Linked DNA regions of Homo sapiens. The protein of the gene in region 2 purifies or fractionates together with the protein of the main gene of each other region. This does not show direct contact. Each region holds a gene or a part of one and is shown on either strand. Other genes may lie near its edges.

Evidence for each region. The genes of interacting proteins can lie anywhere in the genome.
Region 1: the proteins of CHST10 (region 2) and SERPINA12 purify together in Homo sapiens (affinity purification with mass spectrometry; one large-scale study listed by BioGRID and IntAct). This does not show direct contact.
Region 3: the proteins of CHST10 (region 2) and POF1B purify together in Homo sapiens (affinity purification with mass spectrometry; one large-scale study listed by BioGRID and IntAct). This does not show direct contact.
Region 4: the proteins of CHST10 (region 2) and ERLIN2 purify together in Homo sapiens (affinity purification with mass spectrometry; one large-scale study listed by BioGRID and IntAct). This does not show direct contact.

The regions. Positions count from the first base shown.
Region 1 is NC_000014.9:94,495,970-94,499,469, reverse strand, and holds part of SERPINA12 (serpin A12 precursor), read left to right. Parts: intron 1-1,039; 5' UTR 1,040-1,072; coding exon 1,073-1,706; intron 1,707-2,826; coding exon 2,827-3,097; intron 3,098-3,500. UniProt on the Homo sapiens protein: Adipokine that modulates insulin action by specifically inhibiting its target protease KLK7 in white adipose tissues.
Region 2 is NC_000002.12:100,404,169-100,407,668, reverse strand, and holds part of CHST10 (carbohydrate sulfotransferase 10), read left to right. Parts: exon of another isoform or gene 1-222; intron 223-961; 5' UTR 962-993; coding exon 994-1,093; intron 1,094-3,500. UniProt on the Homo sapiens protein: Catalyzes the transfer of sulfate from 3'-phosphoadenylyl sulfate (PAPS) to position 3 of terminal glucuronic acid of both protein- and lipid-linked oligosaccharides.
Region 3 is NC_000023.11:85,373,166-85,376,665, reverse strand, and holds part of POF1B (protein POF1B), read left to right. Parts: intron 1-3,500. UniProt on the Homo sapiens protein: Plays a key role in the organization of epithelial monolayers by regulating the actin cytoskeleton. May be involved in ovary development.
Region 4 is NC_000008.11:37,743,134-37,746,633, forward strand, and holds part of ERLIN2 (erlin-2), read left to right. Parts: intron 1-1,221; coding exon 1,222-1,283; intron 1,284-1,437; coding exon 1,438-1,563; intron 1,564-2,435; coding exon of another isoform or gene 2,436-2,470; exon of another isoform or gene 2,471-3,417; intron 3,418-3,420; exon of another isoform or gene 3,421-3,500. UniProt on the Homo sapiens protein: Component of the ERLIN1/ERLIN2 complex which mediates the endoplasmic reticulum-associated degradation (ERAD) of inositol 1,4,5-trisphosphate receptors (IP3Rs) such as ITPR1.

The DNA.
Region 1 (3,500 bases), on a different chromosome or scaffold from region 2:
AAATCAATAAGCTTTTTAGGCCAACATGCTTTTAGCATCTCTCTGCAGAATTAGGGCTGGAGATTAAGGGAAAACGTAGCTAAAAGTCTTGTCTCCCAGAAGCTCACAGTGGCCGTTGGAAGATGTCAAAGCTGAGAGGTGGATGAAAGGAGCAGCAGTCCAGAGCCAGGCAGACCTGGCTGTTCCTCTCCCATGGTGCCATCCTCTTCCCTCCCTGGGAAGGGTGTAGGGAAGAAGGTTTCCTGGAGATCTAAGTCCTCCTGGAATGAGTATCCACCACCTAGAGAACATATGAGCTTAAACAAAGAGCTTGATCTCTGTAAATTAGTCATAATTCTTTTGGCTGAAGGGGAAAAATTTACCTCAAACCAGCCAACTCTAAAAGGGAAATTTATTGGCTTTCATAACTTGGAAACATGGAAGTGGGTAGCAAACTGAGTTAAAGGTTAGTCCAGGGTCTCCAAAGATGTCATCAGATGTGTCAGTCCATTTCTGTCTTTCCACCTCCCTCTATCACTCTCCTCTCCTTCTACATGTGGAAACCATGGCCACATTCAGCTCCAGGGCTACTTCACAAAGCTAGCTGCCCCAAAGCTTAGGGGGTTTTGCATTCCCTTAGAAAGACACTGAGAGGTCTGATTTTGGTCCACACTCTCATCTTTAACCAGCCAGTGTGGCAAAGGAATGAAGTATTATGATGGTAGGTCTGGGCCATATGCCTACACTACGGGGTATCCTCACTGTGGTCCAATGGAGGGAAGGAGAGCTGTTCCTCAAAGGAATTGAGACACTGTTTCCATAAAGAGGGTACAAAAACAAGAGTTGTCTTCTACATTCAGTCCTCCTATTTACAAAGTGTAGAAGTCATTTCTAGTCCCCAGGGTGATTATAAAGTTTAAATGCTATAAAGGGGTCAAAGCACTCATAAACTGCTATGTACAACACATAATAGTCACTGTATTTCTTCTTTCATCTGGTCTTCCTCTGGGTAACATGTAGGCAATGGGGTTATCATGTTCTTTTTTTCTGCTGACCTCAGGTCTACTACTCAACAGGATATTCTTCAAGGAAAATGAACCCCACACTAGGCCTGGCCATTTTTCTGGCTGTTCTCCTCACGGTGAAAGGTCTTCTAAAGCCGAGCTTCTCACCAAGGAATTATAAAGCTTTGAGCGAGGTCCAAGGATGGAAGCAAAGGATGGCAGCCAAGGAGCTTGCAAGGCAGAACATGGACTTAGGCTTTAAGCTGCTCAAGAAGCTGGCCTTTTACAACCCTGGCAGGAACATCTTCCTATCCCCCTTGAGCATCTCTACAGCTTTCTCCATGCTGTGCCTGGGTGCCCAGGACAGCACCCTGGACGAGATCAAGCAGGGGTTCAACTTCAGAAAGATGCCAGAAAAAGATCTTCATGAGGGCTTCCATTACATCATCCACGAGCTGACCCAGAAGACCCAGGACCTCAAACTGAGCATTGGGAACACGCTGTTCATTGACCAGAGGCTGCAGCCACAGCGTAAGTTTTTGGAAGATGCCAAGAACTTTTACAGTGCCGAAACCATCCTTACCAACTTTCAGAATTTGGAAATGGCTCAGAAGCAGATCAATGACTTTATCAGTCAAAAAACCCATGGGAAAATTAACAACCTGATCGAGAATATAGACCCCGGCACTGTGATGCTTCTTGCAAATTATATTTTCTTTCGAGGTAAGGCTTTTGGCATGTTGGTGTGGAAAGAATAGGATGACCACTAGACTTGGGTTAAAAACCTGGGTTGGCCACTTGTTTACTCTGTGACCTTGAATTCATATGTGATTTATCTCTCAAAACCTCACTTTTCCTATCTGTAAAATGGTTACCATGATACATAACTCATACAGTTATTGAGATTTAAAGTGAAAATGTATGTGAAATGAGCTTTATGAAGTCTATCATTTTCATTATTGGTGATTATCCTAACACAACATTGGTTATAGAGGTTGGAATGACATTTTGTTCCCATCACTTAGATGAGAAAAAAAAATCAGAGTGAGATTAACTGACTTACTCCAAGTTACAAAGCCCATCATTGACAGTCAGGACTGGAACACATTTCTCCTGGCCCTAGCACTGTGTGCTTTCCAGCACTTTAAGCAGACACCTGAGATGGTGATTGTGTTGATTATGGTGATGGTGATCACTTGGTGGGTCTCCTTATGTATGTATTATATAAATTCTCCTTATCAGACTTTATATATTTCCCAGATCTGATGGAGAGAGACAGAAAAAAAAGATGGAAGAATGTTTCCAATTTCAACTTTATCCCCCAACACCACACAGAACACATGTACACAAACAGGTTGGCCAAAATAGGTGAGAATCAGAGGCCAACACCCATCAGTCCAGACAAAATCACTGCTGGAGTGTCAGGAACATGGTACTAAATATAAAAAATTGAGGGTTCTCAAAATCCACAGGCAGATTGATGGCTAAAGAAGAGTCTACTCACATCAGACTCAATTAGCCCTCATTAATTGTAATGCAGTCCCCTCTGTTAGGACATAATCAGTGGGCTTTCTCAGGCTTAGGGGAACCTGAGCTTATGGTAGTCTTCTTTTCCCCTCTTAATTTGGCAGTCTAGTCCTGGCTTCTTTGGGAACTAATAATTGCACCTGAGCCCATATCATCAGAAATCTCCAGGACATGGCATGAGGGCAAGGACTTCCCTGATATCCCGGAATATCCCCTTTCACCCTGAATCTGTGTGGAGAGAGACTACTGGTTAGTTGGATTTAGTCACCTTTTTTCCCTTGGGATAACATGTCTGTTTGTCTTTCTTCAATCTAAGCCAGGTGGAAACATGAGTTTGATCCAAATGTAACTAAAGAGGAAGATTTCTTTCTGGAGAAAAACAGTTCAGTCAAGGTGCCCATGATGTTCCGTAGTGGCATATACCAAGTTGGCTATGACGATAAGCTCTCTTGCACCATCCTGGAAATACCCTACCAGAAAAATATCACAGCCATCTTCATCCTTCCTGATGAGGGCAAGCTGAAGCACTTGGAGAAGGGATTGCAGGTGGACACTTTCTCCAGATGGAAAACATTACTGTCACGCAGGTAAAGTGGGTGCCTAGCCCTCGCAGCTTTTTCCTTCTCTTGTCTTCCCTCTTATTTCTGCTGTCTGAGCTCTTACCTCATGGCCAAGTCCTCTTCTGGGCTCTATAATAAACTTATATCATGGTGAGAATTAGACTGGGGAACAAATCATAGGAATAGAGTGAAGTGCCTGGCTCTTTGAGGGAGATTCATCAAGACTGTGAGGGCGCAGTAGATGGAGTCTTACTGGAGGGCGGTGGTCAGGGAGGACTTCATAGAGGAGATAGCATTTGAGCCAAGTCTTCAAGGGTGAGTGGCAGTCTGTATGAAAGGGTGAGGAGCAAAGGAAACTGCAAGGACAAACACGGGCTGTAAAAGAGAGCTGTGAGTTGTGAGTAGAATGATGTTGTCAACTGTGGTGTCA
Region 2 (3,500 bases):
AGACAAGGAGAGTGATTCACCTGGGTCTTCATGGAGCTCTGACCCACCCAGGGTTAGGAGGCTCTCTCTGAAATTATTTGCCATCAGCACTGTGTTGAGGGGACCACTTCTCCCTGCCATGCAGAAGTGATGGATGGCCTCAGTCAGTCGGTGGAAGCCAGCTCAGCCCAGGGTCTTGTCTGTACGTGGAGAGCTTTGGCTTGAAGAAGCACTGTGTTAAAGGTGAAATGAAACACACTTTCTTGTGTCACCTGCCAAGAACTGACAGTGACTTCCCAGTTCTTTATGTGCCTCCTGCAGGAGAGTGTGGCTTCTGTGCCAGGCTGAGGACCGACATGCCCCGTGTTGCTCCCTGGCTGTGACAGCATGAAAAACACCCACCTCAGTGTTCTACCCAGGCCGCTGCTGGCAAGTGGGCGGAGGCGAGAAGCGTCAGTGTTCATTCCTTTGCTTTTTTAGAGCTTCTCTAGGTGTGGCTACATCTTGTCAGCCAGTCAGAATTTTAAACACAGCCAGCTCCTAATTGCCCCAGCATGGCTTCTGCCCACTATGAATGACCCTCAGCTAAGGCCTAGTCCTTGGCAGGCCTCTTCCTGCCACCTGCTTCCAGACCATCGTGGGAGCTCACTGGGACCTTAGCCTGGGCCCAACAGGAGTCAGGGATCAAATGTGCAAAGGAGTCTTATTCTGTGTTCTGAGAACACAAGGAAGTGGTCTTCTCTCATTATCATGTCTCTCCATTAGGGTGTTCTAAATTTGATTTTATTATTGAATCAATCATTTATATTATTAATTCAATATGAAATGTTAAATGCCAAGTCAAACTACCTATTGTAGCAGTGGAAAAAAACGGAAATATTTGTGCTGATACTTACTGACTGAAATCACCTGTCGTTTTCATTCCTCTTTGTTGACTTGATGTATTTGTAAGCAGCAGGGGCATCTCGCTTGTGTTTTCCAGGAAGAGTCAGTGAATGGCTGCGGTGTGACAACATGCACCACCAGTGGCTTCTGCTGGCCGCATGCTTTTGGGTGATTTTCATGTTCATGGTGGCTAGCAAGTTCATCACGTTGACCTTTAAAGACCCAGATGGTACGTATGCTTCATGGTGGAACGAATTTTGGCTAATTTAGACCTAGCTGCAACACTGTTCCTAGGTACATGCATAGATGACTTCTGTCACAGAGTCAAAGGACTTTCATGCCAGCAGGGACCTTGGAGGTCATGGCCTCCGTTCCTTCATGTTACAGAGGTGTGAGGGGAGGTAGGGTGGGAGGGGCTGGAGGGTCTTTTCAAGCATCTCCTCTGGAGGAAGGAAGCTGCTCTTTGTGGCTGAGGCCTGGGTGGTGCCTAGGAGCAAGGAGCAGGGTCTCCTCCCAGCAGCACAGTGGCCTTATGCCTTGCAGCAGGGCGCCTCTCAGGCTCGCAGTTGGGAATTCTCTTTGCCTCATGTCATCATGAGAGGTGCAGCCTCAACTGCTTGGCATGCCCGTGTGGTGGCCACATGTTTGAAGGTCACCCTCCATGCAGCGGAGGAGGGTCATTTAAATGTATGTCTTCAGGTTGTCTTGGAGGCTTTCTTAGCTCTCCTTTACTGAACGTAGGCATTCAGATGAGGACGGATAAAGAGCGCCAAATTGGGTCTCAGAATGCTGATTCTACTTCGTGCTCTTGTCATTTGCTTATCTACATCACAATGTTTCTTCCACCAAATGGACACCCTGCCTGCTCCGGCACCGCCCATGATTGCCCTGAGCATGGTGAGGTGCTCTGTGGTCTGTGGAGTGCTGGATATGTCCAAAGAGGTGTGTGATATGCTCTCCAGCCCCGAGGCCACTTCATTGAGTGGCCAAGCAGGCAAGCACGAGGAAGCCAGACACATGGAGTCATTGAAGTCCTCATTTGTGCCGTGGATTGGCCCATTCCTTTAGGCTGATTGGGAGATACTGGGGAACGTGGATGAGCACAGCACTTTGCTGTGCTCTGCACCGTACTTTGTCCTCCTGCCGATGGTGGCCTTGGAAAGGGGCAGTTAGAGATGCCTCTGTGCCAGCAGTTCTTCCTGGAGGCTGCACTGACCTGTGCTGTCTGTGTGGGACAGGCCCCTGCTCCACCTCACAGAGCTCCCAGGCATGTCCCTGGCTGTGTCAAGGACTGCCCGATGTCCTACACCTCCTGCCCCATCCTCTCTCTGCCCCACCTTGTCTGCAGAGGGACAGCAAGGTTAGAAGGGAGGTCTGCAGGGAAAAGAGGGACACCCTGAAATTAGCCCACATGGTGGTTCTCCCCATGACAGTTGTTGGGCCCTGATTGGCTGTCATCACATGTCCTGCCTCATCCTCCAGGAGCCCTGGAGAGAAACCTGTGAGGTCTGCACAGCCTCGGGAGGTGATATTACACCTGCAGGTATCTGGGCAGGTGTCACTGAGCATGACAGCTCACGCCCGGGACTCGGGGTTCCGTCAGCAGAGCAAGGGTCGATTCTTGGAGGGTTGCTGGAATGTGACACGATGATCTCAGTTTGACAGTTTGGACATTTCCATGGCAGCTTCAGCACAGTGCCATGCCACTGAGAGATCCCTCCTGAAGCCCTAGAGCCGGGTTCTCATCCCCGCAGCACTTCAGAATCACCTGTGGGACTTTACAGACCTGCTGCTGCTTGAGACCCAGTGAAGGAGAATCACTAGGGGTGGGGCCCAGTTGAGAAGCACAGTGGTAGATCCTAGCTGGAGAACTGAAGAGAAACAGAGCTGCTGAGAATAAGAAATAGGTGTTACTCAGGATTCTCCTAAATGTCACCTCCTGGTATGGAAGGCACTCAAAAGGCAGGTCATGAGGTTAAATTGTTTATGGTTTATTTTGCTTAAAAAAGTAGGAGTAGATGTAATACATTTTAGTGAGACTTCTATAGGTAATAGTTAAATAAGACTTGTGCCTTTGTGTTTTACTGTTATCTGGCAGAATGGCCTCTAAAGAATGCCTTGTTTCCCAGCGGCATCTGGTAAATGAGGTCTCATTCTCCTTTGATGTATCAAGTTTTGTGCTGAATGTTTTCAGTGTAGACACTGATCCTGGAAGCTAAGCAGGGGTAGGCCCGGTTAGAAAAAAAGCAAGTGTAGGCGCAGAACAGGGTTTTGTGAAGCGGAGAAAAGGAGTGGTAAGGAGTGTTAGGAGATAAAACCTATGAAGAAAGATGAAGGGCTTTCGGATTTTACACCTGGAGAGGAGCACCGCAGCGGTCCTTAATACTGCCTGTGAGATCTTTCCAGCCGGCTGCCTTCAGGCGAGTGAAAGGGGGCACTTTCCCTGCCCTGTGAGATCTGGTGTGGTGTGTGGGTGCTGGGTCACTGAGATGGGAGTGCTGCCCCTGACCCCGAGGCAGGGGCTGCTGGTGGTGAGGATGCTGTTGGCCGCACAGTGTGCAGTGAACTCAGTGAGAATCTTCTGTTGTGGGCCCACTCCCGTTGCGGGGTGACCACCACAGCACTACCCAGCCTGC
Region 3 (3,500 bases), on a different chromosome or scaffold from region 2:
ATTTTAAATTTATCTAGATATATAATGTTACTTTGTTTCTTTAATTAAACATATATTTTATGTTTTTTGGTTATTATTTTGTTTGATTGATAGAGTGTTTCTCAGAGAAAATTAAGTGTAGAAACCAGTTGCTGGTGAAATTTTCTAAATTAATGGTAGAATTAAAATTACTGGGTTTATCTGCATGAACACGTATAGTCAAACACAGATATAATCAAGGTCTCAGATGCATTTTAGAACTGAATGTGGTCTTGCAAATAAATAGAGTTCTAGAAGCTTAAAGTAAAACAAAAATTCTTAGTTCAATCTTTTACAAAGCTTAGCTGTTAACCTACCATCATTAACTCAAAATGAAATGCCTTAAATGAGCAACATTGATATGAATTACTCATTGGGCTAACATTCTTTCCTTCCACTAATTAAGGTTTTCATGAAGTTCGAGGTATTTTTCATGCATACAGAGCAGCTGTATACATGAGAGAGAAAAAATGTGAGAGAGAAAAAATGGATTAAAATAAAATATTTTTAAATACCAGTCATTCACTGAATACATGTTTATTAAGTGCCTATTTTTTAGCAAACACTGTGATTTTCTGGATAAATACCATTAACCTGTCCAGGGAGAGTTCATTTTTAGGACAGACATACAGAGCCTGGTCTGTAGGTGTCCCATGTGTCTATCTATATTTCATTTTAAAGGAGTATTTTGTGTTGTGACCATCAGCATTTTATCAAGTAAAACATGCTTTTGTGAGAGAAGGATTATTTTAGTGTATATGTTATAAGGGTTGCCATTCTTTTGAATTTGAAACTTGCAAAGAAACTCTAGAGAGCAGCCTGGGGGAAAATGTGTGTTTACGAATGACCTCTGTTCTCAACAATTATTCAGCTGGGGCTTACCTTTGTTTATATGATTTTTTTGTGCTTTTTCTTTGGTTGCAAAGATTGTGGATAACTCTTCTCTTCCACTATCAGAAAAGTTTCCCGTTCTGTGGGGAGGGGTGTGCTGCTTTGATAAATTGTTGTTCAAGGGCGTAGTCACTAAAGTGAATGATTGTTCAAGGAAGTGCGCTGCCTGAAAAAAGAATGAGGTCATAGGATAAAGGGGTTGCATTTTCAGCTTTGGTCTCCTCTTTTGTGCTTACAATTAAATGAAGCTATAGAAATTGGAGAGTGCAACTAATTGCTGAGTGAAAATGCCCATGGCAATTGTATCTTGTTTAACGGAGGTCTGATAAATTGCTGGGCCTGTTTTCAGTCAAAGGCACTCATAAGCTGTCACGGTGTGTGTGTGGCAAGATATGAGGGTGGCAAGTGGAAGAGAGGGAAACTGTCCTTTCAAGTTTATTTTCTTGACAATTCATGACAAAACAATTGGGAAATTTGCCATGCTCTTAAGCCCTATTTAAAAGTTAAAACTTTTATTAATAAATATATTTCAGCCAACTTTTTCTTCAGACCAGGGGCTATCCCAGTAGAGGTCATTTTTTGATTTTCAATAAAGTATATATACTCATAATTTTTAAAGACAGAAAGCATGCACTGCAAAAAAGACTGTGTATTTTATTTTCTCTCTGTCTCCTAGTTTTCTTCAGAAAAAGAAGAGAAAGAACCCAATATGGACCTCTTAAATGAGGGATTTGGGTTGGAGAGAAGGAGGAACAGGAAGTAGTTCTATTATACATTCGGTTGCTTTCTTTGTATGACAACAGAAACACAGATTTTATCCTAAATCAAAGAAGTGTTTATTTCATCTAAAGAGAGATTATTATAAATAACATGTTTCTTGCTATATAAGTTGAGTATAACATCTCAACAATAACCTCAGACAGGTGTTTAACTATGTTACATGGCTTTGAAAGATCCTAACAAAAACATCTCCCATACTATTCAGGGAATTTATTCAAATGGAGGTTTGCCTTGGCAAATTCTGTCAGCATAAATGTCAGGTGGTTTTTAAAGATATTGCTTCTTTTGAAACTGTTCAGCCTAGAGTATTTGTAACTCACCATTATTACCTTCAGTGATTCTCATAGTCATTGGGAGTAACAGGAGCATACACAAACCTTCCATGGTTTTCCTTCATGGAATATTATACTGTATATTAGTCTTTATGTAAAGTTTTAAAATTCAAATTAGACAACATAAAGAGTTATACTTTCATGTTAGCAAGTTTCCAAATATTTAGAAACAAAGCCTGCACTACGTATGTAATATTCTCTATGATTTAATTCTCATTACCTTCAGTCTTTCTTGTATGTCTTACACCAGGCTTTTGAGCTCTTTGACCACAGCTATCAACAGGAAAATGAAGCCAACAGGTCTTGACTGAAGAGGTTCAGATTTTGCAGTCTAAAGACCAATTGCAGAGAAAATTGTATGAAGAAAATGCCCAAAAAGGTCTATGTGGAATGTCTCAGGAAGAGCTGTAAATAAATATGCAATCATGAGGTGAACTTTGGCAGAATAGAACTATGAAGCAGTCTAGTTGGAGTCCCTAGGAATATTAATTTTAAAATCTCCACAACTTTAATTACACCTAAGAATATGTTCTCTAGAAAAGTTGCTTAAATTCCCTATACACATCCCATATCACTCCTCTGCTGCAAAAACCTTCAATGACACTAAGTATCTATAAATTGCTTAGTCTGACTTTCAAGGCCCTCCATGTTAGGGCTCCTGTGGAACTTCCTGGAACTCTCCTTCTGGTGTCCTATGTTTTAGCTAAGTGTAAATGATTGTTCTCTAAATAAAGTCCCCAATTTTCCACAGCTATGTCTTTCACTCCATTGCTCTTACATCTGAACTGCTCCTGCTCCTCACCCTCACCAATCTAGACACCCTGAAATTATACAAATTTTTCAAGCCTTTCCTCAAGTGTAACCTTCTGATCCTCTGATTGTCCCAGGTTGAAGTTATCTCTTAGCCCTCAAAACTTACCTAGTGAGCTTCTTATAGGTCTTATGATAGTCTACTTAATTCCTATTTGTACTCATAGTGTTTATGCCCTACATGATTATAACCATGAGAGGGTAGAGATTATATTCTAACATCATTTGTATCTCTTTCAATGCCACTACACAATAAGTAGTAAAGAAACTGCAAGTTAGTAACTTAGTCACATATATAATCAATCCAGTGAAAATAATATTTCATATTAATACATGGGTTTTTTGTTTTTCACAACTCTTCCATGTATATGATTATCTAGTAAACAACTTGATAGAACCTCAACAATTAGATAAAACATGCATTATTATGTTTATTGTACAAATTGTACGATGTACAAATAAAGACAATATTCATTGTGTATTATTTATCTGTTAAACAAATAAGGAAATTGAGACTCGAATAGCTCAAAATAACTTGCCTATTTAGTACAGCTGGTTAGTGAATGCCCTGAGTTTAAAAACCAGCTCCTGATATTTTCATTACATCAGCTATCTCCCTTAATTAACTTTCGATATTCATGATTTCAGTTTAAATTAGTTCACATTTTT
Region 4 (3,500 bases), on a different chromosome or scaffold from region 2:
GGATGCTGGATTGGACAGAGACTTACAAGAAACATAAACAGAAGCAAGGGTGAGCATTGATTAGAACCTGGTTCAAAATTAACAGCTATAACAGATACGACAGAAACTATATGAGTCCACTCAGGCTGCCATGACAGAGGACTACACACCAAGGGACTAAAATAATAGATATTTTCTCACCATTCTGAAGGCCCAAAGTCCAAGATCCGGGTAACAGCAGGGGTAGTTTTGGTGAGACCTCTCTTTCTGGCTTGCAGGTGACCACCTTTTTGTCACATCCTCACAAGGCCTTTCCTCTGTATGTGCAAGAAGAGAGAAAAAGGTCTTTGGTGGATACCAGACCTTTTGGATTACAGCCCACCCTTATGACCTGTTTAACCTTAATTACCTTCTTAAAGGTCTAATCTCCAAATACAGTCACATTGGGGGTTAGGGCTTCAACATATGAATCTGGGGGCGAGGCATACACAGGTCAGTCCATAACACAAACTGTTGGGGAAATCTGAATAAGGACTGGGTATTAGGTGATATTACAGAATTATTGCTAATTTTCTTAGGCTTGGGAATGATACCATGAGTGTGTAGGAGAATGATTATTCTTAAGACAGTGCTCACCAAAGTAAAGGAGTAAAGTATCCTAACTGCAGCTTACTTTGAAATGTTCAGAAAAAAAAAAGGTCAATAAATAAGGTAAAATGTTATCAGTGTTGAATTCAGGTATCTGGATATGGATGTTAGTTATACTACTCTTTCGGCTTCTCTATGTTTGAAATCTTTTTATAATAAATATTTGAGGGCAAAGGGAGTGTGACACCAAAGTAATAGTGAAGACAGTTTAAGAAACATTGATCATAACATTCCACAGTAACCTTCTAAGTTCTGAAAACTTCACCTTGACCCTCCTTAGTCTTTTCCGTGCAACTGATTAATCAAAAGGCATTGCTGATTCCAAAGATATGAGTTACTCTTTCGTACTGGTCCCCAAAAGTCTCATTCATGTCTTTGTAGAGATGTTCCTAGGCAGTGTGATTTCTCAGGAGAGTATGTTGTTGCCATGAGCCCTGCAGAACCTCCCACTTGGAGATCCAAGCTGCCTTCCAACTTCCCGTGAACTCTTCTACTCCTTTTCTGCCAAGCCCCACATCTTACGCCATCACCCTGGGGGACTGCACCATATTCTAAGGCTTCCCAGTGACTTCTTGTCCATTCTCCCTCCAATAGTGGTGGTGTGATGATCTACTTTGACAGAATTGAAGTGGTGAACTTCCTGGTCCCGAACGCAGGTACGTCTTAACAGTTTATTCCCACCACCAGCTCACTTTCCCCAGCATGCCACTCCCGTGTCTGTTGTAGCACCTTGGAAAAGGAGAGCTGCCGTGTCTGAGGGCATTTTGAGTCTTGCCTTTTCTTATGCCAAGCCCTCTCCTTCCCTCTCAGTGTATGATATAGTGAAGAACTATACTGCTGACTATGACAAGGCCCTCATCTTCAACAAGATCCACCACGAACTGAACCAGTTCTGCAGTGTGCACACGCTTCAAGAGGTCTACATTGAGCTGTTTGGTAAGAAAGTCTCTCCTGAGCATGCCGTGCTTAAGCAGGGTTCCTGGAACCCCGCGTCTCTCCACTGCCTAAAGCCTGGCTGCCTGCAGGGTGTGATGGTCACTTATGGACAGGAAATGTTAAAGAATCTTGTGCTCAGGAGCTGGTCACAAAGGAGTTCATGGAGAATGCTGATAGCTATGCAACAAGATCCTTAGAGGGCTGGAGCTTTGGGCACAGGGACCATAGTGGAGTAGAGTATTCACTTCTGGCCTCAATCAGAGGCTGGAGTGGAAATGTGTTCCCACTGTTCCTAAACTATCATTCTATAATGAAGACAAGGTCCATTCTAGAAGAACCTTAGAGATTGTCCAGACCAGCATCCTCATTTTAAGCTGAGGGTACTGTGACCCAAAGCAAGAAAGTCACAGAGCCAGATGCCAATTAGTAGTGGGGCTGAAACAGGAGCCTTCCTCTCCTGGCTCTTCAGCATTCTTCTCACCATGCAACACTGAATGGAGGGCCCCCAGGAATGGGTGATGAAAAAGACATGATTCATAGTTAATTCTAGAAGTGAGATGAGAACCATAGCTCCTTCCAGTTCTCAGAACCTTTGTGATTATTATTTTTTTACTCTGTACCTGTAGCAACGAATAGAAAAACACTTTAAACAAAAAGATTCCACGTGCCTAAGTAGATATGTTTTGTCCTTTTTACCTTTTTCAAAGTAAAGGCAACCTGACTTAGCAGCAAAGGAAGGACACAGTTGGGTAACTGTTATAACTTGTTTGCAGTCAAGTATTCTGTTTAAACTCACTGCCAGAAATTCTCTAATAGCCAATGCCAAAAGTAAATGAATTTTTAACCAATAGTATAACTGTTCTTGACACTAGGACTGGAAAATGATTTTTCCCAGGAATCTTCATAAAAGGGACCCTGAGCAAGAACATTTTTCATAGCAGACAGGAGGACTCATCCACATCGCCAGCAATCATAATTAAGCAAACCGCCTTTTGCACCATTTAAGATTTAGGAAATCATCCAAATTACTTTTAATGTTTCTGCAGTAGAAAATGAATCTAAATTCATTTTATAGGGTTTGTAGTCTTTTATCTGTTTTGGATTCACTGTGCTTTTAAGAAAAAGTTGGTAAATTTGCCGTTGATTTTTCTTTTTAACCTCAAACTAATAGAATTTTATAAAATATTAATTTTCTCTAGCCATTGTCTTAGGACTTGTGACATTACATGAACATTTCAAAGCACTGAAAAAAGACAAAGGATCCCTAATGTCCCTGAAGAGGAAATTAAAATACAAAGTTGTTTTTCATTAGCAAACTTCTTACTTTCTTACAGCTAAACTTGGTAGCTTAGTGAAGTACAGCTGCTTGTATGGAGGAGCTGGGGAAATATATTTGCTTTGAAACTTTTTTATTTTTACATCTCAGTCTTGCTAGCAAGCACTACTTGGCTTAGAATCTGTCATATCCATAAAGGAGGAGCTCATGTCTCTAGTCCTGGCCCTTCAACTCAGAAGGTTCTTCTATACTTTCCTTCTCTCAGGACTCTTATAGCCCAGACTTTAAACATGAAGCTGCATAATTTTCATCACTTCTTACTCTGCCGCATCCTCTTTGCCCATGTTATTAAAGTATTATCTAATACTTTGAAGTTTACCTGAAGAACCTCTTTGTGTGTACTTAGTAATACAACTTTTTTTCCTGTCCCAACACCTTTTAATACAGTTGAATGGATAAAAACATGGATACAAACACATGGATATAGTTATCACTGAAGCAGTGTGACATAAAATAATACCTATGTATACAACACTCCTCTGTAAATAGCAAATGTAAAGTAAAAGATACACAACAGATCATTTTGTTTATCTCACTATCATTTATTAATCTATAATGTATCCCTCCTATGTATCCATGCAAGGAAGCAATACTAGCTGCC